Homo sapiens: one gene and its partners. The protein of the gene in region 3 purifies or fractionates together with the protein of the main gene of each other region. This does not show direct contact. Each region holds a gene or a part of one and is shown on either strand. Other genes may lie near its edges.

The links.
Region 1: the proteins of STPG3 (region 3) and CLPB purify together in Homo sapiens (affinity purification with mass spectrometry; one large-scale study listed by BioGRID and IntAct). This does not show direct contact.
Region 2: the proteins of STPG3 (region 3) and CAMK1D purify together in Homo sapiens (affinity purification with mass spectrometry; 2 studies listed by BioGRID and IntAct, with this or other methods). This does not show direct contact.
Region 4: the proteins of STPG3 (region 3) and SARDH purify together in Homo sapiens (affinity purification with mass spectrometry; one large-scale study listed by BioGRID and IntAct). This does not show direct contact.
Region 5: the proteins of STPG3 (region 3) and MCCC1 purify together in Homo sapiens (affinity purification with mass spectrometry; one large-scale study listed by BioGRID and IntAct). This does not show direct contact.

The regions. Positions count from the first base shown.
Region 1 is NC_000011.10:72,422,923-72,428,819, forward strand, and holds part of CLPB (mitochondrial disaggregase), read right to left. Parts: intron 1-5,897. UniProt on the Homo sapiens protein: Functions as a regulatory ATPase and participates in secretion/protein trafficking process. Has ATP-dependent protein disaggregase activity and is required to maintain the solubility of key mitochondrial proteins.
Region 2 is NC_000010.11:12,830,942-12,836,838, reverse strand, and holds the end of CAMK1D (calcium/calmodulin-dependent protein kinase type 1D), read right to left. Parts: 3' UTR 1,294-5,897; downstream 1-1,293. UniProt on the Homo sapiens protein: Calcium/calmodulin-dependent protein kinase that operates in the calcium-triggered CaMKK-CaMK1 signaling cascade and, upon calcium influx, activates CREB-dependent gene transcription, regulates calcium-mediated granulocyte function and respiratory burst and promotes basal dendritic growth of hippocampal neurons.
Region 3 is NC_000009.12:137,248,390-137,254,917, reverse strand, and holds STPG3 (protein STPG3), read right to left. Parts: upstream 3,633-6,528; 5' UTR 3,632-3,632; coding exon 3,522-3,631; exon of another isoform or gene 3,181-3,521; coding exon 3,023-3,180; exon of another isoform or gene 2,918-3,022; coding exon 2,783-2,917; exon of another isoform or gene 2,482-2,782; coding exon 2,393-2,481; exon of another isoform or gene 2,257-2,392; coding exon 1,953-2,256; exon of another isoform or gene 1,820-1,952; coding exon of another isoform or gene 1,804-1,819; coding exon 1,673-1,803; coding exon of another isoform or gene 1,455-1,672; 3' UTR 1,435-1,454; downstream 1-1,434. Other genes in the region: CIMIP2A (ciliary microtubule inner protein 2A), read left to right, coding at 4,682-4,717.
Region 4 is NC_000009.12:133,663,888-133,669,784, forward strand, and holds part of SARDH (sarcosine dehydrogenase, mitochondrial precursor), read right to left. Parts: intron 2,984-5,897; coding exon 2,848-2,983; intron 128-2,847; coding exon 2-127; 3' UTR 1-1. UniProt on the Homo sapiens protein: Catalyzes the last step of the oxidative degradation of choline to glycine. Converts sarcosine into glycine.
Region 5 is NC_000003.12:183,032,750-183,038,646, forward strand, and holds part of MCCC1 (methylcrotonoyl-CoA carboxylase subunit alpha, mitochondrial isoform 1 precursor), read right to left. Parts: intron 4,686-5,897; coding exon 4,469-4,685; intron 1,329-4,468; coding exon 1,242-1,328; intron 1,236-1,241; exon of another isoform or gene 1-1,235.

The DNA of each region.
Region 1 (5,897 bases), on a different chromosome or scaffold from region 3:
CTGGGGCATCCAGGGACGAGAACCAAACCAAGCCATCAGTGCAAAGCTAGAATAAATATGTTTACCCCTCAACAAAGCCCAACCCTTTCTTTTTTCCTGAACTGTAAACCAAATCAGATTTTTTTCCCCAAAGCCATCTAGTAAACCAGTTTGGGCTAGTATGAAGTTCTTTATTTTCTAAAGCCATAAAACCAGAAATCAAAACAGGACACCAAAAGAATCTCCTAAATGATAATTTAAGAGGCAACATGGCATGTATAGTGGGAAGTCAGAAAGACCCAGAGGTTCTAGTGCCTAAATGACATTTCCATTGGCATGTTAAATTCAGCATGTTTAAAACTGAACTCATAATCTTTTCCCCAAACCCAGTGTTCCTCAGGGATCCACATCTCGGTGAATGGCAAGAGCATCTACACAGATGATCAAGCCAGAAAACTGAAATTCATTAAGACCCTTTTCTCCCTAATCAACCATATCCATTTATATTCATTCATTTATTGAATACTTACTGTGTGGCAGGCACTGTACCAGGCATTGTCCTAACCATCACCAAGTCCTATCTAGTTTACTTCCTCCATCTCTGCTGCTGTCATCTTAGTCCATGTCACATCTTCTCTCATCTGGACTACTCCAGCTACTTTTCAACCAGTCTTCCAGCATCCAACACAGATCTCTACCAATCTGTTCTCTACCAAACAACCAGAATGATCTTTCAAAACTGCAGATCTATATCATGTCACAATGTGTACCTGTTAGTCTTTCTCACACATACACATACTGGCTGAAAATTCCTCAACGGTTGCCCATGCTCTTAGGACAAAAATAAAAACTGTTAATATGGCCTACAGACCCAGTGTGGTATGGTCCCTGCTTAACTCGCCAACCTCATTTGACACCACTCTCCCCCTTGCTTTCTAGGGTCCAGCCTTATTGGCCTTCTCTCAATTCCTCAATTTCTCCACATCTTTGAGTCAGGACCTTCCACCTGCTGTTCCCTCTAACTGAACTGTCTTCCGCCTTTCTCTTCATCATTAAGAGTTCACTTCAGTCTCATTTACCAGAAGCTTTGATCTAGGACTTTGATCTCTAGAACTGAGAGGAATACATTTATGCTGTTTATAAACCACTCAATCTGCGGTATTCTGTTATAGCAGCCCAAACAGACAAAGACAGTGGCCTTCGGTGACTAGCTTTTTTCACTTAGCATATTTTCAGGGTTCATCCATGTTGTAGCACGTATCAGTGCTTCCTTTGAATTGATGAATAATATTCTGATGTACTGTTCTATCATATTTTTATGCAAAATGTATCGGGCCCAGAGAGACCTGAGTATAGGCGCTCAGCCATAACCCCACACCCTTGCCCCATGCCTGGGGGCAATTGTTTAAAGCCATTTTTTTCTTTCTTTTCTACCCTGTAGTTTCCTAACTAGCTGCCTCACCCATTATTTTCCTGTAGTTCCTGGAATATGTGATACAAAGAACAATGTATAGCCAAACAATAGCTTGTTATTTTAATGTAAATTCTTGGTAAACAACTTGGAAAGTGCCTCTTCTGCGTGGTGGCTCAGGCCTGTAATCCCAGCACACTTTGGGAGGCCGAGGTGGGCAGATCACTTGAGGTCAGGGGTTCGAGATCAGTCTAGCCAACATGGTGAAACCCCATTTCTACTTAAAAAAAAAACAAAAATACCCTGGGCGTGGTGGCTCACGCCTGTAATCCCAGCACTTTGGGAGGCCGAGGCGGGCGGATCACGAGGTCAGACCATCCTGGCTAACATGGTGAAACCCTGTCTCTTTGTAAAATACAAAAAATTAGCCGGGCGCGTTGGCGGGCACCTGTAGTCCCAGCTACTCGGGAGGCTGAGGCAGGAGAATGGCATGAACCCGGGTGGCGGAGTTTGCAGTGAGCCGAGATCGCACCACCGCACTCCAACCTGGGGGACAGAATGAGACTCCGTCTCAAAAAAAACAAAACAAAACAAAAAAAAACACAAAAAAAAACTTAGCCAGGTGTGGTGGCATGCACCTCTAATTCCAGCTACTCGGGAAGCTGACGTATGAATATCACTTGAACTCAAGAGGCGCAGGTTGCAGTGAGCCGAGATCGTGCCACTGCACTCCAGCTTGGGTGACGGACTGAGATTCTGTCTCAAAAACAACAAAAAAGTGTCTCTTGTTTTTCCCTTTAAAAACACACTTGCAACTGTTGCTAATCTGGAGCATATATTTATGGCAACTTGAATCTAGACTCTTGGGTTGCAGTCCTCAAACTTGGCCCCAGTAAACTCTTTCTACTAATTTTACAGTTGCATAATTAGTTATCTGACTCCTAGTTAGACTGTGCCAAGAGGGCAGGGACTGTGCCAATCTTGTTCGTTACTGTTAACTGCCACATTCAGCCCAATGCCTAGCTCTGAATATGCACTCGTAAGTATTGGCTGAATGAATTAATCATTTTGTTATTAGTAATAATGACTCTGCCACTCTGTGGGGTTAGTTATTATCATCTTCATGTTAGTTGGAAGGTAGGTAATTTGTTCCTTGTTTCACTGGCTCTCAATGTTTGACTCATGTCCTTCTTCCTCACCAGAGGGCACACGAGCTCCTCTAGGGCAGGGACTGTTTCTCCTTCCTCATTTTGTTGCCACAAATTCAGCTCAGGGCTAGGCACAAAGCACAGGCTGGACAGATGGGCGACTGAGGGACAAACGGAGAGTCAATCAATGTTCTCCACGACCAGGTCGCTACCTGTCTCCAGTCCCTCCTGGCCTCAGACTGTGATCCAGCAACACCGAACAGCAAGTGACTTCCCCTCTGCATACCCCCCAGGCTGCTCCTTGCCTTATGCTACCACATATGCTGCCCTTTTTGCCTGGAATGGCTTCCCCTTCTATTTACAAAGTCCAACTGATATTTTAAGTCTATGATCAGGTGCCATTTCCTCTGGAAGTCTTTCTCAGATCCTCCAGGCTGTTTGTCCTCTGGTCTCCTGCAGCCCCTGTAGTTTCCTGTCTCACAGCACTGACCACCCTATTGCCACAGTTTACCCCGACTCTGTCATCATGGGCAGGAACCATGACTGCTTAAGTGTTCCCTGTGCCAAGCAGAGGACTCAGGATATGGCAGATGCTGTTTGTCAAATGAATAAATAAATCCTGGAGAAAAAGGGCAGGCAGTCTGAGGCCCAAGACTGATCTTGCCAGGCTTCCTTTATTAGAGACTGCTTGGGCTGATGAACAACTGAGGTAAGCACTCAGCAGAGGCCTAGCCCCCTGCTGGGAGAAGGGAGATGGGTAGGGGTGTTGTCTTTCACCCACTTTGTGCTGAAGGAAATGTGATCTCCACCGGGAGAACAGGAGGCCTCACTTTTCCCAGTCCCAGTCCTGACAACTCCTCACATGGCTTGGCCTGAGCCTGGACAGATGTGCCTCTAGTCTGCCTTGTGCCCTAGGTTTCGGGTGAGCAGTTCCTCAGGCTCAAGTTTGGGGTAAGCCCAGGAGCAGGACCACCTGCTCACACTGCTGACAGGTAGGAGGCCAGGCTTCCACTTCTGAGGAACCAGAGATGGATGAACTTAAGTGCCTCAGGGGAGAAGGGAGGAAATGGATGTCACACAGGAAGGGAGGGAGGGAGGGAGCGAGGGAGGGAGGAAAGAGAAGAGACCTGGCCTCCCTCTGATATAGCCAAGGGGAGTGTGAAAGCCTCTGGACTGCTTACTTCAGGTACACTGAAAAGTCAATAAAAAGCAAAGAAAGAGTCACAAAAAACAAGTAAGTGCCGCTGTGCTGTGGAACAGGGTAAAAGACGGTAGAGAACACAACCTTGTCCCTGCCCTTCAGGAGGTGCACAATCCAGCAGTTTCAGATGAAATATAGCCCACAGACTTCTTCATATAAAGAACAGTGTGGCAAGTGGCATTCAGCTCTACTTCTCCAACCTGACCTCCAGCTTCTCTTCCACAAAAGGAGCTCCCTCCTGTGACAAGCTGCCATGGTCCTTTCTAGATCACCCTCATACCCTCCCAGACCAGAAGGCAGGTGTAGGATCAGAGTGGGGGGAAGAGGCAAAGGAAGATGAGATCACACCCAGCTGGGAGGAATCCAAGAAGGCTCTGTAAGGAAAGCAGCACTAGAGCTTTGAAAGGTGTAAGCAGAGGATAATGAATACAGATGGCAGAGGGCCATCTGTGGAGGACCCACATCCAGGGCCCATGGACTGAAGATTCCAGGGTGTCCTTAAAGAGGAGGATCGAATACCTCCCCCTGGGAGCAGAAGAGCATTAGGCTGCTGCCCTTCACTATCCAGAACTTTCCCAAGACTCTGGGGCTAAGGACAGGAGCTGGGGGAGGTCAAGTAGAGGCAGACACAGTACAGAGCCCCAGAGAGGTCAAGTGGGGAAGAAGGGTAAAGCACGACATTATTTACGAGGTCTGAGTTTTGCTCTAAATACTGATATTATTGACCATATCAATCATATACACAGTGACCCAACCATGTGTAACCTACAGTCATGCGCTACACAATGATGTGTTTGTTAACGATAGACTGCATGTATGAGGTGGTCTTATAAGATTATAATGAAGCTGAAAAATTCCTATCCTCTTGTGACGTTGTAACTGTCTCAACATCATAGTGCAACAAATGACCTTTTCTGTATTTAGGTATGTCTAGATACATAAATACTTACCATTATGTTACAATTGCCTACAGTATTCAGGGCAATAACGTGCTATACAGATTCCTAGCCTAGGAGCAACAGGCTATACCATATAGATTAGGTGTGTGGTAGGCTATTACCATTTAGGTTTGGGTAAGTATACTCTATGATGTTCACACTGTGATGAAATTGCACTACTCAGAATGTGTCCCTATTGTTAAGCAAGGCATGACTGTATGTGTAAATTCAAAGAAATAAATGAGTATGGGATTCTGTCCTGCTATAGGCAGGTCTGTTGGGCAGAGCTAAGAGCCCAGGACATTGAAGAAGAAATAAAGAGCAGCATGAACCACCTGTACAGAGTCTAGGGTACAGAAAGGCTGAATAAGGACCTACTGTAGGAATTCCAGAAAGTTTCCTTCTAGCAAGGATGGTCAGGCTCCCTTTACCCCCACTGCCCCCAGACCTGGCTCTGTTCGCAGGAAGAACTATAACTGGTGGGTTACATGTCTGTTTCCTTGAGACCAGGGCCTGGGTCACCATCCCCATCCCCCATCTGCAGTGCCCAGCAGAGGCCCACTCACTCTTTCATAATCAAGAGCTGCTTTGGGTGAGGGGGAGGGAAGGATGTCCTCATTCAGGCCCTCATCATCTTGAATCTGTCTTTACTGAAACAGAAACAGCCTCTTAACAGATCGGCCCTCAGCCTTTTCCCAATGCAGTCCATCCTTCACTCCTCTGCAAGTCAGCCTTAACTGGGTCATTCCCCTGCTCAAAAACTTCCCACGTCTCCCCACTGTGTACAGAGTAAGAGTTCAAAACTCCTCACCCTGGGCATGGCAGGCCTTGCACATTCCAGCTTCTCTCAGACAACCTTCCCTCTTTTCTGACACCCTGTACAAATCCCACCTCAGGAGCATCAACATATTCCGCAGGCCCAGCAGCCAGCCAGCATCTGCTTCCCGCCTTTGCTTAGCTTGCTCCTGGCTCTGTGGTCTTGTATGAGATGGGGGCTGAGGGCAGGTCTGTGCCTCGCTCATCTCTGATGTCCTCACATGGAGTGAAGGGAGATTCTGACAGGGTCATCCTGACCAAGTGAGGTGGGACAAGAGGAGGCAGGAGAAAAGCAGGCTAGAGCCTGGGGACACACATGAAAAGCCCCCCCAGACACTATCCACACGAGAATGAATGTTCAGAAAAATTGTCTGAATCACACATACACCGTTAAGTTCAATTAC
Region 2 (5,897 bases), on a different chromosome or scaffold from region 3:
GAATTATTATTATTATTATTATTTTTGAAAGAGCCTTACTCTGTCACCCAGGCTGGAGTGCAGTGGTGCGATCTCGGCTCACTGCAACCTCCAACTCCTGGGTTCAAGCAATTCTCCTGCCTCAGCCTCCTGAGTAGCTGGGATTACAGGCGCCCACCACCATGCCCAGCTAATTTTTGTAGTTTTAGTACAGATGGGGTTTCATCATGTTGGCCAGGTTAGTCTCGAACTCCTAACCTTGTGATCCGCCCGCCTTGGCCTCCCCAAGGGCTGGACTACAGGCATGAGCCACTGTGCCTGGCCTATGAAACAGGATTTTGATGGCATAGTCACTCTCCTTGGGGGCAGAGAGAGTCAGGGGGATTTGGGTGCACACGATTTGTATCTCCTTTTTTGCCATCAAAATGTTATGTTCCATAAAACCTGCAATAACGACATCACATATTCACCCACTGAATGATAGCTTTGTATTGATGCAACTCATCATTAGGGTCTGGGCTACAGAAGCAAGAATCAACCACAAAAGAACTAGACATCAGACAGTGGGCACTGCCTTTCTTTTGGGCTCATAGCCTTTTTTCAGTAAGGCCCACCCATGCTGTTTTCATCTGATGCTGGCTGTGTGGGACAGTTTTAATTCTACATTTCTATAACACATGTCCAATTCATTTTTTTCTCCCTACACAATCCCTATTTGGATTGGAAGAATTGTCTGGCCATCAGACCCGAGCCCCACAATACATTTGATGAGCTATGAACTGTAGTTCCTCCTCCTGCATCTCCCCCAAACCCCCACAAAAGACAGCAGCCAGCCTTCTGCCTGGAAAAGAATCTTCCTTTGGGCACTGCTATGCCGAGGAAATGGAAGAACGTGGGTGTGTATTGCTGAAGCCTGAGGCTGCCAAGCCACCCATGACTCAGAGGCGCTTCCTGGGGATCAGCATTGGCTTTTCCTCCACATGACTTAGGAATATTGAGTTAGTGCGATTTGAGTTCCCAGGCTCACCTCCAGTCCCCCTCTGCAGCAGCAGGGAAAAGGGGGAGCTTTCCTGTCCAGTGATCATGGAACCTGGGCACCTGTCCCCAACCCCAAAGGCACGATGTACCATCCCTTCACCCATCCCTGCCACTCCCTGCTCACTGGGGAGGTGACCTGAAATATTTAAGGGGGACTCCATGAGTTTGGGGGGTCTCAATTCAAACTCCTTCCTTCAAATCCAAACTTCAGGAAGCAGAGGAAAGATAGAGACACTGAAACTCCACATCCTTCTCATGACAGAGGAAATGAGCATCTGAAGGTGATTAATTGTCTTTATTGGAGGAAAACAGGAAGTCATCAATCTCATTATCATTATGATAGAAATCTTGATATGTATACATGATTGTCAAGGCAGAGAATCATTTGCTACATAGACCCATGAACAATTTTGCAGTGCCGCAAACCTATGTGGGTTAAACTTCTTGCAGAGTTTATTACATGCATGGAATAAATTCACAGTTTCCCTTCTTTTGGACAAACATGTTTTTATGGGAAAATTGAACCAATTGCAAGCCTGGTAATAGTAGATGCGGGGACATTCCTGGTTTTGATGTTGTAATTTTTTGGGAAGCATGCTCACTGTTGGGGGAGCTGAAAGAAGGGAGATTACATTATGTGTAGTGACAAAAGCCAATTGAGAGATTGTTCCAATGTTTATTCTGGACAGAGGGTACCTTTGAGGTCTTCTCACCTGAACGTGGGACTAAGATAAATGTTCTCTGAAACATGGCGCCCCATCTTTCGAAGCAAAGACTCTGCTGCATGCAATGTCGCTGCATTTCTGCCACCATTCGGACAGCATTTCATGTCCCTCTGATAGGGCCAAGTGCCCCGGGAAGGAGAGTGGCAGGTGTCAGGGCTGAGAGACAAACATCCGAGCTGATGTTCTTGTTCCTTTTTAGCTCTCTCGCAGCCTGGCTGCCAACCACGTCCCAGGGCCCCTGTGCCCTGAAGTGCAGGGCTTCCAGGAGAGCCTGGGAATCTGAATCTGTCTAGATTAAGATTTTCCTCCGAGAAGCAATTTAACTAGAGTTTGGGGTTTCTGAGCCCCTGCTGAAGTCTTATCTCTAAGAGTAAAACCAACTCCTCCTCATTTTCTTTTTTCCTGTCCATAAGAAAATAAAATCACCTTTAAAATAACATGGCAAATCATCAGAAGACATAATAATCGAATGAGAAGTTCCCCGGAGACAAAAAGGTTAAAAAACGGATATGGCGAATGCAGAAGCGGTGTTATAGTACAAAGGGTGAATGCAACCGTTTGTCCCTTTATACAGACACCGAGAAGCCATTCCACAGTTTGCTTTGTCCACAAAACCAGACTCGGCAGCCGCATGCTGAGCGTTTGGCTTCCAAATGCACAGCCTTTTTGGGTTTGCAAAAGCGGAGCTCCCAGAGCCACAAACTGAGCTGCTCCTGCTGGAGGTGGCGGGGAAGTCTGGGAAGGGCTGACTCCTTCCCACTGACTCTGGAGGCATCGGGAGGTGGCCGGGCCTCGGCCAGCATGCAGGACTGACTTCACAGTGGGGCTGGGGGCCCAGAGCTGCAGACCATGATGCCCCGGGACCACCGAACAGGTGCCAGGTGAGTGGGGCGTGGGCCCTTATCTTCCTCAGACCGCCTGCCTGCTCCCCAGAGTTGAGGTTGTCAAGCTAACTCATCTGCACACTCATTTTCTTGGAGTCTTCAGGAAAGAAACCCTCCTTTTAGGAGTCTGTTTGAGCTTTTCTATCTCCACATTTTCAATTCTGAACATCGAAAGACTGGAATATCTTTTGCAAATGTCAGGCACACCTGCAGCCCCAACCGAGGACCAGGTGCCCCTCAAAAGGGTGGTGGATCACATACAGGTATATACATCTTTTTTTTTTTTTTTTTTTTTTAACAAACTGAACAGTGTTTGGTCTGGAATGTGTTTAAGGAAAAGGCAAAGTTCGCAGAGTGTGGGTAGACAGAATAGGGAAGAAGTACAGTTTCAGAAGAACATGCAAAGGTTTCGTGCACTGGCTGAATTCAAGGACCTTCAATTAATTTGCCAGAAGTGATTGTGCAAACCTGGGAAAGAGGACATCTTACTTCTGTTTATGAAAAACGGGAGGAGCTTCCCTTTGCCCGCACTTGCCTTCCTTTCTCATATCCAAAGGAATCCCAGTCGTGTGCTTGTTAAATTCTGCGAAGCAGCGAGGGCTCTGGCTGAAGCTGCGGCAGTGGCCCTACTTCCACCTTCAGCCCTAGAGCAATGGTTCCAGCGTGGCCTCCCCAACGCGAAGACTCAATTCTGGCCAAGGTTCTGGGGGAGAGGGAGAGGTGAGGGGCCACGATGCTTTCAAAAATAAAGTCTACCTGCACTGGGATATCATCTTTCCTTTCTGTTTAAAAATGCTCATAAAATAGCAAGCCCCAGTGGGTTAATCAGGTTAAGCTGTCATTCCACAGGGGAGAGGATCAATCCACTTTCCAAAGGGGATCACCTGGGCTCCCCCCATTCCCCCCACCCCGTGTGCCTGGTGTTCTCGGCTTCTGTCCCTCCCACCTACGATTCATCCAGGGCATGATGGACACTAGGGTAGACAGATGAGTGGGATGAGTACGGGGTAGGTAAACCGAGTCCGGGGCTCCCTAGGCCAGATTCCTTTCATCCTACTACAGATATTTCCTATGAGCCCAGCCTTGGCCAGCATGGCCATCTTTTTTGAGACGGAGTCTTGCTCTGTCACCCAGGCTGGAGTGCAGTGGCACGATCTCGGCTCACTGCAACCTCTGCCTCCCGGGTTCAAGCGATTCTCCTGCCTCAGCCTCCCGAGTAGCTGGGATTACAGGCACGCACCACCATGCCCAGCTAATTTTTGTATTTTTAGTAGAAACAGGGTTTCACCATGTTGGCCAGAATGGTCTTGATCTCTTGACCTTGTGATCTGCCCGCCTCGCTCTCCCAAAGCGCTGGGATTACAGGCGTGAGCCACTGCGCCCTGTCCACTGTCCATCTTCTTTTGCTCGCTCTATCCTGACTGCCGGGGCCCTGGACACTACACAAAGAGCTAGCTGGAGAGTGAGACTCTCTCAAAGGCCAGCGGTGGCTCAGAGACTCTACACCGTTCTCAAGGTCAGATGCTAGAAGTGACCAGAATTGTGGCCATGGTCAAGAACGCAAAGCCACTCTTCCTTTTTTTAACTTTGTATGGCACGCTTTGCCATAGCTCTTTTCTTTTAAAAGAAGACCTGAAGGGGTAGAATGTTTTCTAGTCTCCGACAGAGGCAGGGGTAGGAGGAACTGGTGAAAATCAGCCACTGTGCACTGCCAGAGCCGTGCATGGTCCTGGGGGTTGCCATTTCTCTAACACAGCAAACCCCGTCTCTCCTCAAGGGCTTTGGTGGTCATTGAGCTTCTCCTAGGTGTGCCCTGCGCCTCTGCACCACTTCATTCTGAGGCTCCGGACCCGTGTGCCCGCTGGGAAGCAGAGCCGTAGAGAGGCAGACAGCTGCCCAGACTCCAGACTCCAAGGCCACCTCTGTGAAAAGGGCCAAGCTGCTGGCCTGTTGGTGCCCGCTCACTGTTTGTCTCAATGAATAGAAACTCCTCCTATTGCCTCACGTATGAGATGAAGATCCGGGAAGCCAGGGAGCCCAGACAGGCAGCTGAGGGAAAGGCCACTCCAGGCCACTACTTCAACATTGAATACTCCAAGTGAGGAAAAGAGAATCCACTTGCTCTGAGAAGGGATAGTGACCAAATGGGGGACTTGGGCTCAGGAAGGAAGCCTGTGATGGGGTCTACGCGTCCACCCTTAGCCTCAGCCCAGCACCCTGGGTGCATGTAGAAATGCTCAGCCTCTACAGGTGGACTCTGACCTTGGTGCGGGTCCTAGGACTCTGAGACCCCATTTGTCAGACCTTCACGAAAGGCACATTCTAGGTTCTCTTCCTGTTTTATAAGAAAACAAATCATACCAAGCGCAGTGCAAAGACAACCTCTTTTTAACATGAGAGCTCTCTCAAAAGCACAAGAGCGCCTCTCTTTCTCTGAAGCAATAGGAAATTAACCCAAGCCTGGTGGGATCAGGACAGTACAGGCTTCCTGATGTCATGCTCAACAGTTGACTCTTGGGCTGAAACCAGTCACTGTCTCCTCGCACGATGTTGTTGAGACCCGGCGTGTGACAGGCCAAGCATGGCCAAGAACTGACCCGAACAGCGAGGGGGGCACCTGCACCACGGCTCACCTTTCAGAGGTTCTGCACTTTTTGGGTGAGGGATACTTTCAAACTAAGTGCATATAACATGCACCACATGTATCTGCTCCTGAAAATACTTCAATCACCAGTAATGGAACTCAGCTTCAAATGCTGCTTTCTGAATGCAAATGGTTGTATATAGCACACAGCACAAAGGGCTATTCATCACTATTCATGTACTCATCCTAGGTACCAGATTCGGGTGCATTTTCAGCGCTTGCAGCCTTCTATTACTTTGTCATGCACTGTATGAACTCGAATGTTTCCAAGACACTTCTTAGTAAGCAACCGCCTAGTTCTCCAATACTGCTTATAATATTCATTCATTGCATGGCCAACTCAGGTGACACTTGCTTCTTAACTGGGTCTAATGTCATCTTATAGACCTTTCCAGGGTTTTTAGATTTTGCAGAGTGACAGCTTGATTTTTCACCCTGTGAGCATGCGTGGCAGATGCCATGCAGAATTCCTGCCAAGCAGTGGAGTGCCTGTGAAGTGTGCGGGGACAGGGTAGACCAGCTGCCTGTCTTCCCAACTGCTCTTCTCTGTGCCTGCACTGCCATTCTCAGGGAGCAGGATGGAGCTGCTGTGCCTAATAACATTGTGTGTGTGTGTGTGTGTGTGTG
Region 3 (6,528 bases):
GAAACGGGCACGAAGCCCACCCCGGCGCTGTCGCCAAAACTGAGATCTGAGCGCCTTCAGGGGGCCGGGGCCTGGCGGAGACCGGGCCCGCAGCGGGAGCGCGAGCGACGGCCGCCCTCCCAGGCACCGGGAGGCTGTGGCGCCCACCGAGCTCCGCGGAGCCGTGAAGGAGAGTCCAGGTTCCACAGTGTCCCTTCTTATCCCAGGCGGGTGGGCTCCCCGGGCCTCCCCGCCTCTCCAGCCCGCCGCCCTCCCGCAGGCTGTGCCGCGCCAAGCCCCCTACACACACCCTCTCTCTTTTCGGTCTCCGCTGCTGAAATTTTCTCTAGAAATTTCTTTCCCGCTGCCCAGCAAACTCTTGCTCTTCCTTGAAGGCTTCTTCCTCCACCACCTCCTCCAGGAAGCCCTCCCTCCTCAGCCCAGCTGGAGGAGATCGCTCCATCTTTCCTGCCGCTCCCACTCCTAGCTTTGGGTCTCACCAGGGGTGCCTGGTGGTGCAGCCGTGAGCAGAGCTCCTGTTCCCACAAGCCGGGCCGAGCTCCCAAGGCCATGGCTACCACAGCTCTCTTGCCGCTGGCCAAGTTGGTCAGCCCTAGGGCGAGGGTTCCAGTGCCTTGATCCAACCCCCAGCTGGTTCGGTGGCAGAGGAGGACAAGGGTCACAGCACACACACAATCCTGAGCCTGGGATTCCTCTCTGAGAAAGGGGGTGGTGCTGAGGCCACAGAAGCAGCTGCCCAGAGCCTTTTTGAAGGGGTTGAGCTCTGGGCCTGGTCTGGGTCCTGGGTCTGGGGAGGACCTGGGGAGGTGCGGGTGACGGCACCGCAGGTAAGGCTCCTGCAAGGTGGCAGCCTTGGGGCCCGACCCTGGGTAGGAGGGCAGGCCAGTGATGACAAGGGAGGCCCCAGCCAGGCGAAGTTGCAGGCAGGGGCAGTGCAGGGTCCCAGCAGGTGAAGGCCCCGGGAGTGGAGTCTGCAGGGCCCTGGGCCAGAGTGTTCAGGGCACAGGTGACTAAGCCCAGCCAGGTCTTCAGCTCAAGGCCTAGGGGAAGTGGGGCTGGGCCCTGGTGAGCAGATCCCTGGGCCCTTCCTGAGGTCTGGCCAGGCCGACCCCACCTGGAGGTGGCGGCTCAGGGCATTTGACGCCTCCTTCCCAGTTCCCTGGCTCGGCAAGCAGCTGACCCTCAGGTGGACAGCAGCTAGACCAGGCCCCTGAGTGACACGGCTGGGTGGGGGTGTCCCACAGAGCCCACCTCCCATCTCGCTCCAGGCTAGAGCTCAGGGTCAGTCACAGGCTGCCACCCTAGAGAAGAGAGCACCTTTCAGGGGCAGCTGAATGGAGACCCCTCAACAGGGAAAGCCGGAAATGACCCAGCGGCAGCCATATCTCTAGGACCGCCCCCGGGTGAAGGACAGACAACTGCACACCACAGAGCTCGGGAAAACCAACAGCATCTCAGTGTAGCGGGGAGATGGGCAGATGGGGGATCCAGGCTGGGCCAGCCTTGTCCACAGCCCATAGAAGGGTTGGCCAGCCAGAAGGGTGCATCGGGGTGCCCAGAGGGTCAGAAGGCCAGGCTGGGGCCCCAAGTCCCAGGGGAGGCCTGGGAAAGCCCCGGGGGAGGCCATGGTTCCACTCGGTGGCCGGGCCAAGCAGGTTGTGCCCAGCTGGCTCTAGAGCGTGCAGAAGGGGCCTGTGTCGTGGCGCTTGGGTCTGCGTACACCCTGGATGACCACGCCAGGCGCCGAAGGGAAGCGTGAGTTGCAGTCCTCCACGTGGTAGGCGGCTGGGCCAGGGGTTCGGGCTGCCGAAAGAGAAGGCTGGGAGCCCCACCCAGGTAGCAGCCCCAACTCAAACCTGGCTCCCAGTTCCCACCCCCGGCCCCTGAACCCTTGTCCTCACATTGCCCACCCATGCCCCATCCCTAGCCCTCTTCTCTCCAGGCCTCCTTACAGGTGCTGAGCCAGGAGGTGAACGCAGGGGAGCGGCTCATCGAGAAGGCCGGCGAGCGGGGGCTCTGCAGGCGGCTCCCAGGAAGGATATTGTAGGTGTTGGGGCCAGGGCATCTCTTGCCAGGTGCCTGCAAAGAGGCCTGAAGCAGGGACTGGGGCTGCACCCTGAGGCCCAGCCCCCTAGCCCCAGGCAGCCCTAGGTGGGTGTGGCCTTCAGGTGTCTTGGAAGCGGAGTGGCAGCCTCTGAAGCTGAAGGCGGGGAAGGCGGGCCGGCTGAGCAGCTGGTAGTGGGCTGGCGAGGGCCACTGCGAGGGGGTAGGAGACGGGCTGCAGGGCAGGGTGCTCCCCACGGACCCTCAGCCAGCCCCCCTTTGGCCCCACTGGAACCCCCAGCCCCCTGCCTGCGTGGACTCCCCGCCCCCTTCCTGCCCAGCCCCCAACCTTTTGCTCTTGGTCGAAGTCAGCTTTCTGCGTGAAGGGGCTTTCGCTCTGGAACCACAAAGTCTGCCATGCCCTGCGGCCACCGCCCTCTGTAGTTGGAGGATGGAGAGAGAGAAGGCTGGGAGCCCCACCCAGGTGACAGTCCCCACTCGAACCTGTCTCCCGGTTCCCACCCTCGGCCCCTGAACCCTTGTCTTCACAATGTCCACCCATGCCCCAGCCCTAGCCCTCCTCTCTCCAGGCCTCCTTACAGGTGCTGAGCCTAGAGGTGAACGCAGGGAAGGGTGGAGGGGCCCTCAGGCCGTGGGGGTTTCAGCACAGAGGCAAAGGCCCCCATTCCCAGGGTGAGGGACAGGCCCGGTGGTTGGGCCTCAGGGAGGGGACACACACCTCGGCCCTGGTGCTTGCAGCCGATGCTGTAGTGGGGGTGTGGGGAGGACTCTCGTACGGACGGGCTCGGCACCTGGTACCTGGTGGGGCTGGGGACTTCCAGGTCAGCTGTGATCAGGGGGCGTTGCTCCAGCACTGGCCACAGGAAGCAAGCTCTGGGCCTGGGCTCCTTTCAGCGGGCCCCTCCCACAGCCCCCCAAAGACCAGCTTGGGGGTGGGGTGGCCAGGACCCTCACTCACATAGTTCCCTCAGGGTCTGGGTGTAGGTGGGCAGGGACTCCTGGGGGGTGCCCGTCTGTAACCTGAGGCCAACTGGGATCTCCTTCATCTTTGGGGGCTGTGTCTCATCCCAGGCCATCCCCGGCTCCGGGCCCAACAACAGCACAGATGCCTTGGGCCTGCAAGGGAGACCAGCAGCCACTGTCTCAGCCCCCGGCCGCTCCCAGCCACATGCCCCACAGCCTGTCCCCTCTATTGTCCCTCAGCCCCCGGCTGCTCCCAGCCACGTGCCCCACAGCCTGTCCCCACACTGTCCCTCAGCCCCTGGCCGCTCCCAGCCGCCTGTCCCCTCTACTGTCCCTCAGCCCCTGGCCGCTCCCAGCCGCCTGCCCCACAGCCTGTCCCCACACTGTCCCTCAGTCCCCCAGCCGCCTGCCCAGCAACCTGCCCCCCACACTGTCCCTCAGCCCCCTGGCCACTCCCAGCTGGCCCGCCCCTTCTCCCCCTCTCCGCCAGTTACTGGGTGGGCTCTGGTTGTGTCTGCCTCAGGTGACCATGGGTCCAGTGTTTGCCTCCATTGATGTAAAAATTTGCCAGGAATTTCACTGCCTTCTGGTCAGAATTCATCATCAGAGTCTCCTGGCTCTCTTCCCCAACGGCACCACGGAGCTCTGTGACCTCACTGGTAGGCCCCTCTGTTGCTGGGACTCCTGAGGAAGACACATTGTCTGGCCCTGGAGGGGCTGCCCCGGGCCCCGACCCCTGGTGGGCCCCTCCCCCACTAACTAGATGATCAGCGGGTCCGCCTGGGCCAGGACCCCCAGCCTGCCCCGGTGACTCCTGGCCCAGCCCTCTCCCTCCCCGCAACCTTTCCAGCCTTCTCCCCTCTCCTGCACCCTGGGGTCTCCTGGGAGTCTGGGGTCCACTCTAGCAGGTCTGGGAGGACTGAGGCCTCAGCAGAGGGGGTGGAGGGAACAGGACCCACCGGCATCCACCAAGCCCTAGGAGATGCCCAGCTGTGTCTGGCCAGCCAGGACCCCCTGGGGGTAGGAGGGAGGGGCCCAGGAAGGCTCCCTGGAGGAAGAGGAGGAGCCGCCACCCCATCTGGATTTCCACTTAAGGGAAAAGCAAATCCACATCAGATGGGTCTGACACCAGAGGCAGGCCGGGCCTTGGAGCCCAGCCAGGGCTGGGGTGTGAGGGCCTACCTCTCACCTGGGGGCACAGAGGCTAGAGGGTGTCACAGATGGCCGGGCTGCCAGAGCTGCAAAGGAACAGCCAGCCTGTGTGAGCAAGAGCCCGTGTGGGCACCAGGGCCCTCACTGTGTGGTCTCTGGAGCTGACCACCAGTTGGTCCCAGCCCTGACCTTGGCCCAGAATCCACCAGGGCAGGGCCTGTGAACAGGGCCAACTTGGGGCCCTCCTCCGCCCTCTCTGGATGCCTCCCCTTCAGCACTGGGCCTGCCAGGCAGACAGATGGACACGTGCTTGAGGAAACACGGGTTTTATCTGGGCGAGGGGTTCACGCCTGTGCTCCGGGGCCCCTGCCCAGGTTGTGCCGGGTTCAGAGTTGACTGGCTGCCAGTGGAACAGAGTGTACTTTGCTAATGAAGCCCTTGTCATTGGACAGATAGGCTCCTCCAGGTCCTCCCTGCCCTGTAATAAACGTTGCCACCGTGAATGGTGCTGCTGGACATCCATCCTCTCCTTGAGAAGGTGCGTGGGGGAAATGCTCTCTCAGTGTCCGGCTCTGCGCCCACACCACCACAGCCGTCACAGAAGGAGGCCTCTGCCCAAATGTTGAGGGAGGGGGGTTGTTCCCCACACACCAAGCTGGGTGTCCTCTAATTCATTTCCTTCACCATTTACCTGGAGATGGTGTCAGATCCCACAGGGTGAGAGCTCCATCCCAAGAAGGCCTCCAGACACAGATAGGGGCAGGGCCTCCAGACACACACCAGTCGCAAGCCTGGGCCCCTGGAACTTCTGACCAACTAGCTTCAATTTGGGGTTCCTGTGACACCGTCTTTGGGTTAATTTGCTGGAGCCACTCATAGAACTAGGGAAGTTATGACGTTTACTGGTTTATTGTAAAGGGTATTGATTGCAAAGGATACCAATGAAGAAGCGTAGAGAGAGGCACGGGGAGGGGCTGGCGCTTCCATGTCCTCGCTAGTTGCCGCCCTCTGGGAACCTCCAGGTGTTCCCCTGTCCAGAAGTTCCCTGAGCCTCAGTCCTCTTGGGATTTTACGGAAGCTTCCTGATGTCAGCATTCCTGCCCCCAGGGCTTAGGTGGGACCTCTCCTGGAAGGGTCTTAAGACCCACAGTCAGAAAGGTGAGAATGTTAGCGTCCTGCCTTGGGGCAGGTGAAAGGAGGGCAGGAGGTAAAAGTCCCCCGCCCGCACCCCCCAAGCATCACCCACCCAACATTCTAACAAAAGGCCCTACCAAGGGCTATGGGAATATGGGAATTACCAGCCAGGAACGGTGGAGGAAAACCAGCGTCTACCAGAATGCCAGACAGCTTCTTAGGAGTGGAAGCAATGGTCCCAGTTTGCAGTGTCTTGTATGGACGTGATCCATACCAACTTGGTTTCCAGAAGGCACCACCCAAATTAGAGGCCCTTCTCACTGTGACCCTGCCGGCAGTAAGCCTCAGAAACTGCTCTCAACACACAGTCAGCATGTATGTGATTATGGTCCTGCTTTATGCCCTTATATTTACGGACTGCGGTCTTTTTTTCTTAAAAAGGTCATATTGGCCGGGCACAGTGGCTCACGCCTGTAATCCCAGCACTTTGGGAGGCCGAGGTGGGCGGATCACGAGGTCAGGAGTTCGAGACCATCCTGGCTAACATGGTGAAACCCTGTCTCTACTAAAAATACAAAAAAAAAAACCATATTAGTCTGCATTTTCCATGGAGGTGTTGTTTATATCTTTGTTTTGTGAGAGCTTTTTATGCTGATACCAGATTTGTTCATAGCACTTACTGCAAACTTTTTTCCAGTTTTTTAGTTTGCCTTTTAGTTGTTTTTTTGTTTGTTTGTGAGAAATGGTCTGGTTCTGTTGCCCAGGCTGAAGTGCAGCGGTGCGATCTCAGCTCACTACAGCCTCAACCTCCTAGGCTCTGGCCATCCTCCCACCTCAGCCTCCCAAGTAACTGGGATCACAGGCACATTCACCATGCCTGGCTAATTTTTCTTTCTTTTTTGTAGAGGTGGGGTTTCCCCATGTTGCCCAGCTGGCCTGAACTCCTAGGCTCAAGCAATCTGCACACCTCATCCTGCCTCGGCCTCCGAAAGCACCGCAATTATAGGCATGAGCCACAGTGCCCAGCCTTTCTTCTTTCTTTCTTTTTTTTTTTTTTTTTTTGAGACAGAGTCTCACTCTGTGGCCCAGGCTGGAGTGCAGTGGCACGATCTCAGCTCATTGCAATCTCCACCTCCTGGGTTCACGCCATTCTCCTGCCTCAGCCTCCCGAGTAGCTGGGACTACAGGCGCACGCCACCGCACCTGGCTAATTTT
Region 4 (5,897 bases), 3.6 Mb from region 3:
CTCAGTAGATTCCCTTCACCCTCTTGTTGTTGGGGTCGAAGGGCGACTTCAGGTGAGCCTGGGCACCATAGGTCACCCCCATTCTCTCCAGGGCATAGTCCCCGCTCTTCACAAAGTCCAGCGAGACCTAGGAGCAGAGGTGGGGATGAGGATCACTCTCTGTTGGTAGGTACAGGGCTCACGTCTGCCTGCTTCTCTGGAGGAGGGGGTCTTGGTCTTGCTACCTGCCCTGTGGGCAAACTCATCCCTGTGCCAGGGACTCCTTTCTGAACCCAGGCATTGCCCCAGAGCAGGTGCAGTTCGTGTCCATGTGATCTTGAGTTGGACATGGGCATCTGGGGTCCGGCAAAGCCAAGGTCTGGCAGCCAATATGACTTCCACCGGACAACACACCTCCCACCCCAGCAATTCCAGATGCCTGGGAAACAGCAGCAACACGGTGGCTTCCCCGGACCCGGGCAAGCACAGCGGCCAGAGCAGCGCCGAGGCTGGGGGCCAATCCGGCTCGAATCCCTCGGGGCAGGGGCGGCTGGAACAGCCTTCTAGACAGCTTGGCCTCTGCATGCTCCCCATCCCACACCCTGGCTCGGGCTCCCCAGCAAGCGCTCGGGAGCCAGTCAGCCCCAGGTGCAGGTGCTCTTAGGCAGGAGGAGGGTGTCACCTCCAGCCTGGCACAGCTGGTGACGCCTGGCACTTTTGCTGCAGCTGCTATGAGGAGGGCAGGCTAGGCCACTCAGGGAAGCTGTTCTTCCTTTACAGCAATTAAACCCAAGGTCAGGGCCACAGGAGGGAGTCTCGGGCTCCGCTCTGGGAGTCAGAGGGCTCCTTCTTGTTCCTAGCAGCTCAGGACTGGATGAAAAAAATAAAAAACAAACCAAGCTTTTTCTGCGACAGGAGCTTTAGGAGTGGTGCTTCTGAGCCATGTGTGCACCTGCAGGGCTGAGAGCTCTGAGCTGCCCCCCGCAGGCAGGCAGCATGGAGAGCTGGTGGCCTTCAGATGTCCACGGGCATGCACAACTCAAAGCGGGCATCTGGCCTTGCTAACAGATACCTACGAGGCAGAAACGCCTTCCCCATCTCGGAGCCTTTCCCATCAATGAGCAGGTTTCCCTATCTTAGGCAGAAACCTCCGTTACCCCACTTGGGTGCTAGAAAATGTTTAACAACCAGCTCTGGGGTGAGGTGGGTGTGACTGTAGCATTTGCCCATTTCCATGGTGCAAATGCTCTGGACAGCCCTGATGGAGGGGGCAGGAGACGTGCACCGGCCGCTCTGGGTGCATCGACTGGTTCCCCGGCTGCCTGTCTGGATGCCGTTTAACCTCGGAACCTCGGCTTCCCTGGTCACGTTGGTTATGGACCCATCCCTGACTCCGGAGAAAGGCGAGCATTACTGTTCTTTGAAGAAATGGCAAAGGAGCCTCCACTCCCCAGCCCACCCTGGCATGGAGCCCATAAACTCCGGTTTGGCTGGGCCCCAGGGCTGTGGCCCCCAGGACCATGGCCCCAGGGCTGTGTCAGGAGGCCCTGCCCACCGTGGGAGCCATGCCATCACAATCCCCACATATTAAGACTCACTCTGTGCAGTGGCCTGTATGACAGCCCTGCATGGTAGGTGAGTGTCCACATTTTATAAATGAGGAAACTGAGGCTCCAAGAGAGGATCCTTATCCAAGGTCACAAAGCAAGTAAAAGGCAGATCCAAAGGCTAGTGGCATCAAGTGTGTCCCCAGCCTCCCAGCTCCACCGCCGGACTCAGCCCCATGGGCTGCCACTTCCCCACAGCTCCACAGGACCATGGTCTTGCCCGAGGCCTGGCGGTGTCCCCTCCCCATTGGGCCTGCGAGCTGGGCCTGCGCATGTTCTGCAGCTCTTGCTAAGGCTGCTCCGTCTCCAGCCTACCCCTCCTCATGGCTTCTCCCAAGTGCTCGCTCCCTCCCCAATTCCCTCTACGTGTCCATCAGGGGCTCAGGCTGGAAGGCTCTGGAGCCAGGCCAGCACCTCCCGGCCTCACTTAGGGCTTAGGCCAAACGTCAGATCGGCTCCCATGGAGAGACACGACCCTCCTCACCGGCACCTCTACTTGCAGTGCCAGAAAGATGGGAAAAGGAGGTGGAGGTAGAGACCACCCCTTCCCCTTCTGGGGAGGCTGCCCACCCCCTGCCCCACCACCCCTGGCCACCCAGAGCTGTCCTGGGACTTGCTCCTGGGGGCAGTGCCTGCTCTTTCCAGCCTGTTCCTGCCTCCTGCAGCCAGGGGTCAGGGTCACCTGGAGGGGGTGGGGTTGCCTGGGGTCAGGGGTGTCGGGGGTGAGGAAAGAGAGGATAGGAACATGGGTCTCTGAGTCTCTAGTCGGTCACCCTGGGGGCCACCCCTGCACCCCAGGCAAAGGGTGGGCTGTGGGTGGCCTGAGGTTTGGGTCTCTGGTGTGAGGAGCTGGAAGGTATCAGCCTGGCTGGCTGGCACCTCCTTCTAACCAAAAAAAGCCTGGAATCACCAAAGTCGGATTCTTCCAGAAAGAAAACAGAGAGCAGCTTTGGCTCTGCCCAGGCACAGCTGGGGAGTCCTCCACCTGCTGAGGCCTCTTCCTCCCCCTTCTCCTTCTCCCTCCCTCCTCCCTCTCCCTCCTCCTCCTCCTTCCTCTCTCCCCTTTTTCCTTCCCCCTCCTTCTCCTCCTTCCTTCCTCCCCCTCTTCCCTCCTCCCTCCTTTCTCTTCCCTCCTCCTCTTCTGGACCACACCCGTGCCTCCTCCCTATGCCCGGCACACTCAGGGTGCAGTGCAGGGAGCTGGTTTGGAGCTGGTGAGGGATCGGCATCTGCCTTAGCAGGGCCAGAGAAGGGGACTCACCGGCCCACCGCTGGGGTCATGGATGTAACCGTAGGCGATGGTCTTGTCGATGGCGAACCCAAAGTCAGCCCTCCGGACATGGCCCACCACTTGGCCGTTCCTCCAGATGGCCTCCAGGCCAAACATGGGTACTTTGCTGGAAGAAGCAGTAGAGAAAGCTGGGGCCCCAGAAACCGCAGGGTGGGGACGCGTCCACAGCGGCCTGGAGGAGAATGGGGGGCTGCATGATGCACACCCAACCGTGGCTCCAGGCAGATAGGGCTGGCCTACTAGGACTACGCTGGTCCCCAGAGCCAGCCCAGCACCTGGCCTGGACAGCAGGGCTCGGGCTTCGAGTGAGTAAAAGGGATGAATAGAAAACATCAAAACCAGGAGTGGACTTTGCTGTTTCCAGAAGCGAGCCCCGTATATTTGGGAGGGCCCCTGCTTCCGATTTCCTTCCATTGTTGTTCAACTCTGGTTTTTTTTTTTTTTTTTTTTTTGGTGCAGTGGCACAATCTAGACTCACTACAACCTCCGCCTCCCAGGTTCAAACGATTCTCCTGCCTCAGCCTCCGGAGTAGCTGGGATTACAGGCACCCACCACCATGCCCGGCTAATTTTGTATTTTTAATAGAGATGGGGTTTCATCATGTTGGCCAGGCTGGTCTCGAACTCCTGACCTCAAGTGATCTGCCCACCTCAGCCTCCCAAAGTGCTGGGATTACAGACTTGAGCCACTGCGCCCGGCCAGGTTCATTTTTTTTATAGTACAATACATACTTTATTCAAAGGACTTTACTACATGTAATACATGAATGCTCACTGTAAAAGTTTTAAAGATTAAAAGCAGGAAGACAAAAAAAAAAAAGTAAGCTAAAATCAAAGAAAGGCCAGCACCCAGGGCTAACTGGTAACATTTTGTTGCCAGTCTGCAGACTTCTCCCTGTGCAATGGGTTATCACGGCGGCAGCTATGCAAAGGGGTCCCTGAATGGAAGGGCTGGGGTGATGTTGAGGGCACCTCCTGCATCCTCAGCCTGGAGTCACTGTTTGGGTCCCACCTGTCCATCAGATTAGGACGAGGCTGGAAGGAGGTTTCGTAAACATCTTTGGTGTCACCCTAGTTTCTGTTCTCCACGTGAGGACGCTGAGGCCCCAACTGCCCGGAGTCCCAGAGCAGTGTGGCAGGGCTGTTCTCTGTGACTCCACTGCCAGCATCTTCTCTGCGCCTGTCCTGGAACTGCAACAGTCCAGAGCCGCGGCGCAGGGCAGCTATTATGCAGCCTGACAGGAAACCCCTGAGCAGAGCGCACTGGGTCACAGGGGCCGTCCGAGGCCCTCCTAAACCCAGACATCAGGCTGCAGGTACTTCATGGAGGGCCAGAAGGTCGGGGTCAGGCAAGCAGAAAGGACCCATGGATGCTGACCTGTCTGCAAGGGGCCCCCTCTCCAGGAGCTGAGCTGATTCAGGGAGCTGGACAGGCTGTCACACAAGAGACAGAGCCTGACAGGCACCCAGGGAGAAGCCACAGGATGACGACGACACGGCTCCACTCACCGTCCCTCTCCCTCCCTCTCCCTCCCTCTCCCTCCCTCTCCCCCACCCTCCCTCTCCCTCTCCCTCATTCTCCCTCACCCTCCCTCTCCCTCACCCTCATTCTCCCTCAGCCTCCCTCTCCCTCTCCCTTCACCCTCCCTCTCCCTCTCCCTTCACCCTCCCTCTCCCTTACCCTCCCTCTCCCTCGCCCTCCCTCTCCCCTCGCCCTCCCTCTCCCCTCACCCTCACCCTCCCTCTCCCTCACCCTCCCTCTCCCTCACCCTCCCTCTCCCTCACCCTCCCTCTCCCCTCACCCTCCCTCTCCCTCACCCTCCCTCTCCCTCACCCTCCCTCTCCCCTTACCCTCCCCCTCCCTCTCCCTCACCTTCCCTCTCCCCTACCCTCCCTCTCCCTCACCCTCCCTCTCCCCTCACCCTCCCTCTCCCTCACCCTCCCTCTCCCTCACCCTCCCTCTCCCCTTACCCTCCCCCTCCCTCTCCCTCACCTTCCCTCTCCCCTACCCTCCCTCTCCCTCACCCTCCCTCTCCCTCACCCTCCATCTCCCCTCACCCTCCCTCTCCCCTCACCCTCCCTCTCCCTCACCCTCCATCTCCCCTCACCCTCCCTCTCCCTCACCCTCCCTCTCCCTCACCCTCCCTCTCTCTCTCCTTCCCTCTCCCTTACCCTCCCTCTCCCTCACCTTCCCTCTCCCTCACCTTCCCTCTCCCTCACCCTCCATCTCCCTCACCCTCCCTCTCCCCTTACCCTCCCTCTCCCTCACCTTCCCTCTCCCTTACCCTCCCTCTCCCTCACCCTCCATCTCCCCTCACCCTCCCTCTCCCTCACCCTCCCTCTCCCTCACCCTCCCTCTCTCTCTCCTTCCCTCTCCCTTACCCTCCCTCTCCCTCACCTTCCCTCTCCCTCACCTTCCCTCTCCCTCACCCTCCATCTCCCTCACCCTCCCTCTCCCTTACCCTCCCTCTCCCTCACCCTCCCTCTCCCCTCACCCTCCCTCTCCCCTCACCCTCCCTCTCCCTCACCCTCCCTCTCCCCTCATCCTCCCTCACCCTCCCTCTCCCTCGTCCTCCCTCTCCCTCCCCTCGTCACTCTGACACTCCTTTTGAAGGCTCCAGAAATCTGGGAGAAGTGGCAGTGTTTGCAGCTGGCTGTCAGCTCCATGTCCACAGAGCCCAAAGCCGCCCACTTCCCCGGATACCTGTGCTTCAGACCCCCGTGGGCACCACGGGAGGGCCTCTGATCAGGGCCTGATCTTCTCAGACTGCCCTGCAACCCAAGTGGGACTCGGGTTCCTGGAATCCAAACTCTCCCAGTAGCCCAGGGATCACGTGCGCCGGGCTCCAGCAGCATGCTCAAAGCCACTCTCAGTGGGGAGAGCAGGAGGTCAGGTCGCCCCCAGGCAGAGTCTCTCCTTCCACCTCTGCCGTGTGACTGGGCGTGAGTCCCCTGCTCCTTGGCACCATGTGGTCTCCATTCGTGAGTGGGGATGACGGCCCCAGCCGAGCCCCTCTCCC
Region 5 (5,897 bases), on a different chromosome or scaffold from region 3:
TGTAGTCTCAGATACTCGGGAGGCTGAGGCATGAGAATGGCACGAACCCAGGAGGTGGAGCTTGCAGTGAGCCAAGATCGTGCCACTGCACTCCAGCCTGGGCAACAGAGCCAGAGTCTGTGTCAAAAAAAAAAAAAAAAAAATTTGTTACTGGGTGAGTGTCTTCATAGAGGTGAAGTAAAAGAGATTTTCCTCTGTCCAAGGAAGAGCGTTCTGTGATCAGCTGGTGAAAGTATTCTGCTCTACCTGGGAGGCATATTTTTATACCAGAACTGTCACAGTTCAATGACATGTCACATTCAAGGTTAGCCAGGATTCTGAGCTCTGACTCTGCCCATTGGGCCTCCCACACAAACTGTCTCACAGCAGAAGGGATACAGTGACCAGCTATCATAGAATTCTGGTCCTGCTGCTACACTGCTCCAGCCAAAAGTTTATAAACTGCCTTCTGGCTTAAGCGTCAGCCTCTTTTGACATCAGTTAAAGAAAATCAGTCACTAAGTCGAGCCAACTCAAATTAGTTTACAATCAAAAATCAATTTTCTACTGGAAAAGTGGTGGAAACAGCCTAAGAGTCAATGTCACAAAGAGTAGGTGTGAATCCTAGTTCTGCCACTCACTAGCCTTGACTAAACTACTTCACTTCTGTGCCTTACCATCCATGCTTTCATCTTCCATACGTGGGTATAACAGCGACTCCCCCTCATTTACGTTGTGAAGATAAAAACTTACATCAGATAAGGCACTTAATAAATTACAGCTCTGCAGTGACCCACTTCCACCTGAAACCCCTGAAACACTGCATGGGCAGTGGGTAATCGTCCCTCTCTGACATAGTTTTGAAAACTGTTTTTCTTATTTAAAAGTAATACATTCTCGCTGCAGAAAAATTGCAAAGCAAAAAAAAAAGTACAAAGAATTGGGGAAAAAGAGGTTTTTTTGGGCATATTTCTAACATTCTGGCATATTTCATTTCAGCTGTTTTGCTATGTTTATTTTATGACATATTTTTAGAATATTTACAAAATTTTTAAAAAGTGTAAAGAAGAAAAGCAAATACCATCAACTCTACTACCCAGAGCCAATCAATTCTATTATATTGGCATATTTCCCTCCAATGTTTAGCCTAGGCATTTAAAAAATGTAACTGACTGATCATGGCCAGGCTGGAATCCTCTTTTTCAGATTAATGTGATACATTTCTATGACTCACATTTCTCTTTTAATGAAACATTACTTACTGTTTTTACCATCTTTAAGAGTCATGTTTCTGGTATACGAGATATTCAGTCTTCTTCCACTGCTAGACGAAAATGGAGAGAATTGATCTAGAAAAAATTTAAAATTCAGTAACAAACTTATGAGTATCAAGCCTATGAAATTTACACCTTACAAAAGAAAACATAAAATGCAAGTGCTGGCCGGGCACAGTGGCTCATGCCTGTAATCCCAGCACTTTGGGAGGCCAAGGCGGGCGGATCATGAGGTCAGGAGATCGAGACCATCCTAGCTAACACGGTGAAACCCCGTCTCTACTAAAAATACAAAAAAATTAGCTGGGCATGGTGACGGGCGCCTCTAGTCCCAGCTACTCTGGAGGCTGAGGCAGGAGAATGGCGTGAATCCGGGAGGTGGAGCTTGCAGTGAGCCAAGATTGCGCCACTGCACCGGATCCAGCCTGGGCGACAGAGCAAGACTCCGTCTCAAAAAAAAAAAAAAACAAAAAAACACACGTCCTAAACTGGCAGCTCAGATGTGCTTTTTTTGTTCTTCTTGTTAAGTTTAAAGGGCTGGTTTTGTTTACATCTTATGAAATTTCATGTGAAAAATTCTAGCTTCTATTGAAGAATCTGAATATTTGCAATCTAAACTCTAATCCCATAGTGGCATAAACTGTACCACAGTCACCACCTTTTGATGGGGCAAATTCATTCCAGGTCACCAGTCTCTACTATTCACTATTTTTCTTTCACCTGGCCTCTTTTACTCTTTTATGTTTTTATGTTGTTGGCCCAGCCCTTATAGGCCTTTTTTTTTTTTCTTTTTTGAGACGAGTCTCGTTCTGTCGCCCAGGATGGAGTGCAGTGGCATGATCTTGGCTCACTGCAACCTCCACCTCCTGGGTTCAAGTGATTCTCCTGCCTCAGCCTCCAGAGTAGCTGGGATTACAGGTGGGTGCCACCACAGCTGGCTAACTTTTCTATTTTTAGTGGAGATGGGGTTTCACCATGTTGGCCAGGCTGGTCTCAAACTCCTGACCTTAAGTGATCCACCCGCCCTGGGCCTCTCAAAGTGTTGGGATTACAGGCATGAGCCACCGCGCCTGGCCCCTTATAGGCATTTGGGTGTATATCCTCTATTGGACAATATCCAGGAGCTTCAGCATAGCTAAGCTGATGCAATTTATTCTGAACCTCATATCTGTACCAATTATAAACTTTCAAAAGGAAGGTCACAGTAAGACAACGTTCCATTCTAAAAACGTTAAGGTCAGGCTCAGGAATACCACATGGGACGTATTTAGATGCATTTTCATTCAATGTAAAAGGATAAAATGAGGATAGAGCACAAATCTTCTAAAGATGCAGTTTTCGGGACTTAAAACATTTTACATTTTAAGCTTTCCATACAGCTATCTTGAATGAATCTAAATGAATTCAGAAATTAAAGATTCTAATGATAGGATCCTATAATAATACGGGTTCAGTATCACTTACCCAAAATGCTTGGGACCAGAAGTGTTTTGAATTTCAGATTTTTTTTTTTTTTTTTGGATTTTGGATTATTTGCATTATATTTAACTGGCTTAGCATCCCTGATCCAAGTATCTGGAATCTGAACTGTTCCAATGAGCATTTCCTTTGAGCATCATGTTAGTGCTGAAAAAGCTTCCGATTCTGGAGCATTTTGGATTTGGGGATTTGGGATGCTCAAACTGTATAGGGTAATATAATAATTACCAATAAAAGAGAAAAATAGATCAGATTTTTAAAAATTCTGTTTGCTCCGAAAGTCAGAGCTAGCCTGAAATGCAAAAAGTATGTGAGAGCTGAGATTTTGTATCAATTTAAAGGGCAGAACTTTTTTTTTTTAATACTTTAAGTTCTAGGGTACATGTGCACAAGGTGCAGGTTTGTTACATATGTATACATGTGTCATGTTGGTGTGCTGCACCTATTAACTCGTCATTTACATTAGGTATATCTCCTAATGCTATCCCTCCCCCCTCCCCCCACCCCACGACAGGCCCCGGTGTGTGATGTTCCCCACCCTGTGTCCAAGTGATCTCATTGTTCAATTCCCACCTATGAGTGAGAACATGCGGTGTTTGGTTTAAAGGCAGAACTTTCTAATGGAGAACTGACTGAAACTGTAAGCTACCTGATGAGGTAATGAACTTCCAGTTTCCCAAGGTGTTAGGAAGAAGTTGGGCAACAGCTTAGTGGGTGTGCTGGGGTAGGGATGCAATGCATATGTGTGGTAGCCAGGATGAACCCCACTATGGCCCTTCCTATGCTTGGATTCTATGACACTATGAAGTCTCTAGGTAGACATTCAATCACAGGATGGAAAAAGCGGAAGTAATTCGACAATAAGTCATGGGTAACCCTGGGGAATCTAAGTCTCCAGTCTTAGATTGTCTTGAGACTCTGGGACAAAGGGAGTTGCTGCAGGTACAGAGGACAAAACAAAGTAGGGCTATGAGGAGTGGCGAACAAAAGAAGTGATAAGAAATTAGTGTAGGATGTGGGGAGAACAAGTGTTTGACTGAAAAGAGATCCATTTCCTTTTTTTTTTTTTTTTTTTTTAGATGAACTCTCGCCCTGTTGTCCAGGCTGGAGTGCAGTGGCGCGATCTCGGTTCACTGCAACCTCCGCCTCCCGGGTTCAAGCGATTCTCTTGTCTCAGCCTCCCGAGTAGCTGGGACTACAGGTGCGTGCCACCACACCCAGCTTATTTTTTGTATTTTTAGTAGAGACAGGGTTTCACCATGTTAGCCAGGATGGTCTTGATCTCCTGACATCATGATCCGCCCACCCTGGCCTTCTAAAGTGCTGGGATCACAGGCACGTGCCACCACGCCCAGCTAATTTTTTGTATTTTTAGTAGAGATGGGGTTTCACCGTGTTAGCCAGGATGGTCTTGATCTCCTGACCTCATGATCCAGCCGCCCTGGCCTCCCAAAGTGCTGGGATTACAGACGTGAGCCACCGCGCCTGGCCAAAGAGATCCATTTCTACAATGTTAGGTGATTAGTTACACTCCAGTTAATGGGTTAAATAGTGTTTATGGGTGCATCCATGGTAAGTGAAGAGCTTTCCTTCATACTAAAAAACACATCTGAAAAGAATGGTGTCAGTCACTGAGAGGAGAAAAGAGAGGTCAGTGTGCCATACAGAAAGAAAAGCATGTTCAATGATGATTTGCAAAACTTGACAAGCAGAGGAAAGAGAAAAGCCTTCCATACCATGTGCCTGAAGAGTGAAAGTGTCGGTCATGGCTTTCTCCTTGAGGATGAGACCCAGGGCTGCCTGGCATAAAGACTCTTTGGCTGCAGCCTTCCGACTGAGCAACAACTGTTTGTGGTGTTGAGGGATGAAATCAGTGTGCACGTTCCCAGCTTCAAACTCTGGGTGGCCAGACAGGTTGAGTAAGAAGTCAATGTTGGTGTGCAGTCCAACAATCTAGGAAGAGAATAAACCCCCAGTTCCTGCTGAGTGGGGAAAACAATATGTTCAGAAAACCATCTGCTCTTTTTATCTAAGTATTTTCTACTGTGAACAACTCTTAGGAAAAATAAAAAACCTACTAAGGTACCATGTGGCAACAGGACAATTCTCAGGAAAAAAAACACAAAAAAACCATCTCACTATCACTATGTCCATCCGCTATTACTATATCCATCTGGACTTGACACTAAAAATTACATTTTAATATGACAAAGAGGATGCTGGAAATACCGAGGCACTTACTTGACTCAGGTTAGGAACATAATAAATGTTAAGAAACATAAATGAAATTCATTTGCAAGGTATCGAAGACTTGCTGCTCAGAACACTTCCACAGAATAGGAAGACTGCAAACAGCAAGCTGGATTGCTATACTGGGGAGAGGATAGGATTAAATGCCCTCAAAAGAGCTTCTTTCCAACAATAAAATCCAAATTTTATATACCGATACAAAAATTTTAAAAGGTATAAAATTAACCCAAATACACCAATAAATGGGATCAAAAGTAAAACCAGCTATCTGAGCTTTGGGTTCATTCATTCACTCATCCATTCCTTCATTCATTTAACAGCCATTTCCTGAGCATCTCTTAAGTGCCAGGCTCTGATCCAGGCACTGGGGACATAGTGAGGAACAAAACATATGATGTCCCTGCCTTCACAGTCTCTGCTTACATTCTAGGGCAACAAGTAACAATATCTGTAAACAGGTATTGAATATAATGTTACATGCTATGAAGAAAATGAAGGCTGGCTAAGAGGATAAAGAATAACAAAAGGTCATACTTTAAATGGGGCAGCCTGGGAAAGGGCTCAGAGCAGGAGAGCAGGGTAGTCAGGAGGGAGCCCTGCAATCATGTGGGGGAAGAACATTCTGGAAGATTGGACAGGAATGCATGGCTCCATGCTGAGTGAGTCTCAGAAGCGGTGAGGCGGCCAGTGTGGTTGGAGCCACAGAGACCAGAGCTTTGATCAATTATTAACAATAACAAGTTGAATAACTGGGTTAATAAATCCTTCTATGAGCCAAATCAATGTGGTATGGGACTTTCTGCACCAAGGAAATTAATGTTCTACAGAAAAATAACAAACTCTATTAAAGGGATGAAACTGAACATAATTATTTTACTTTAGAGAAAAACTACTGGACTGCAGGCATACTGGGTA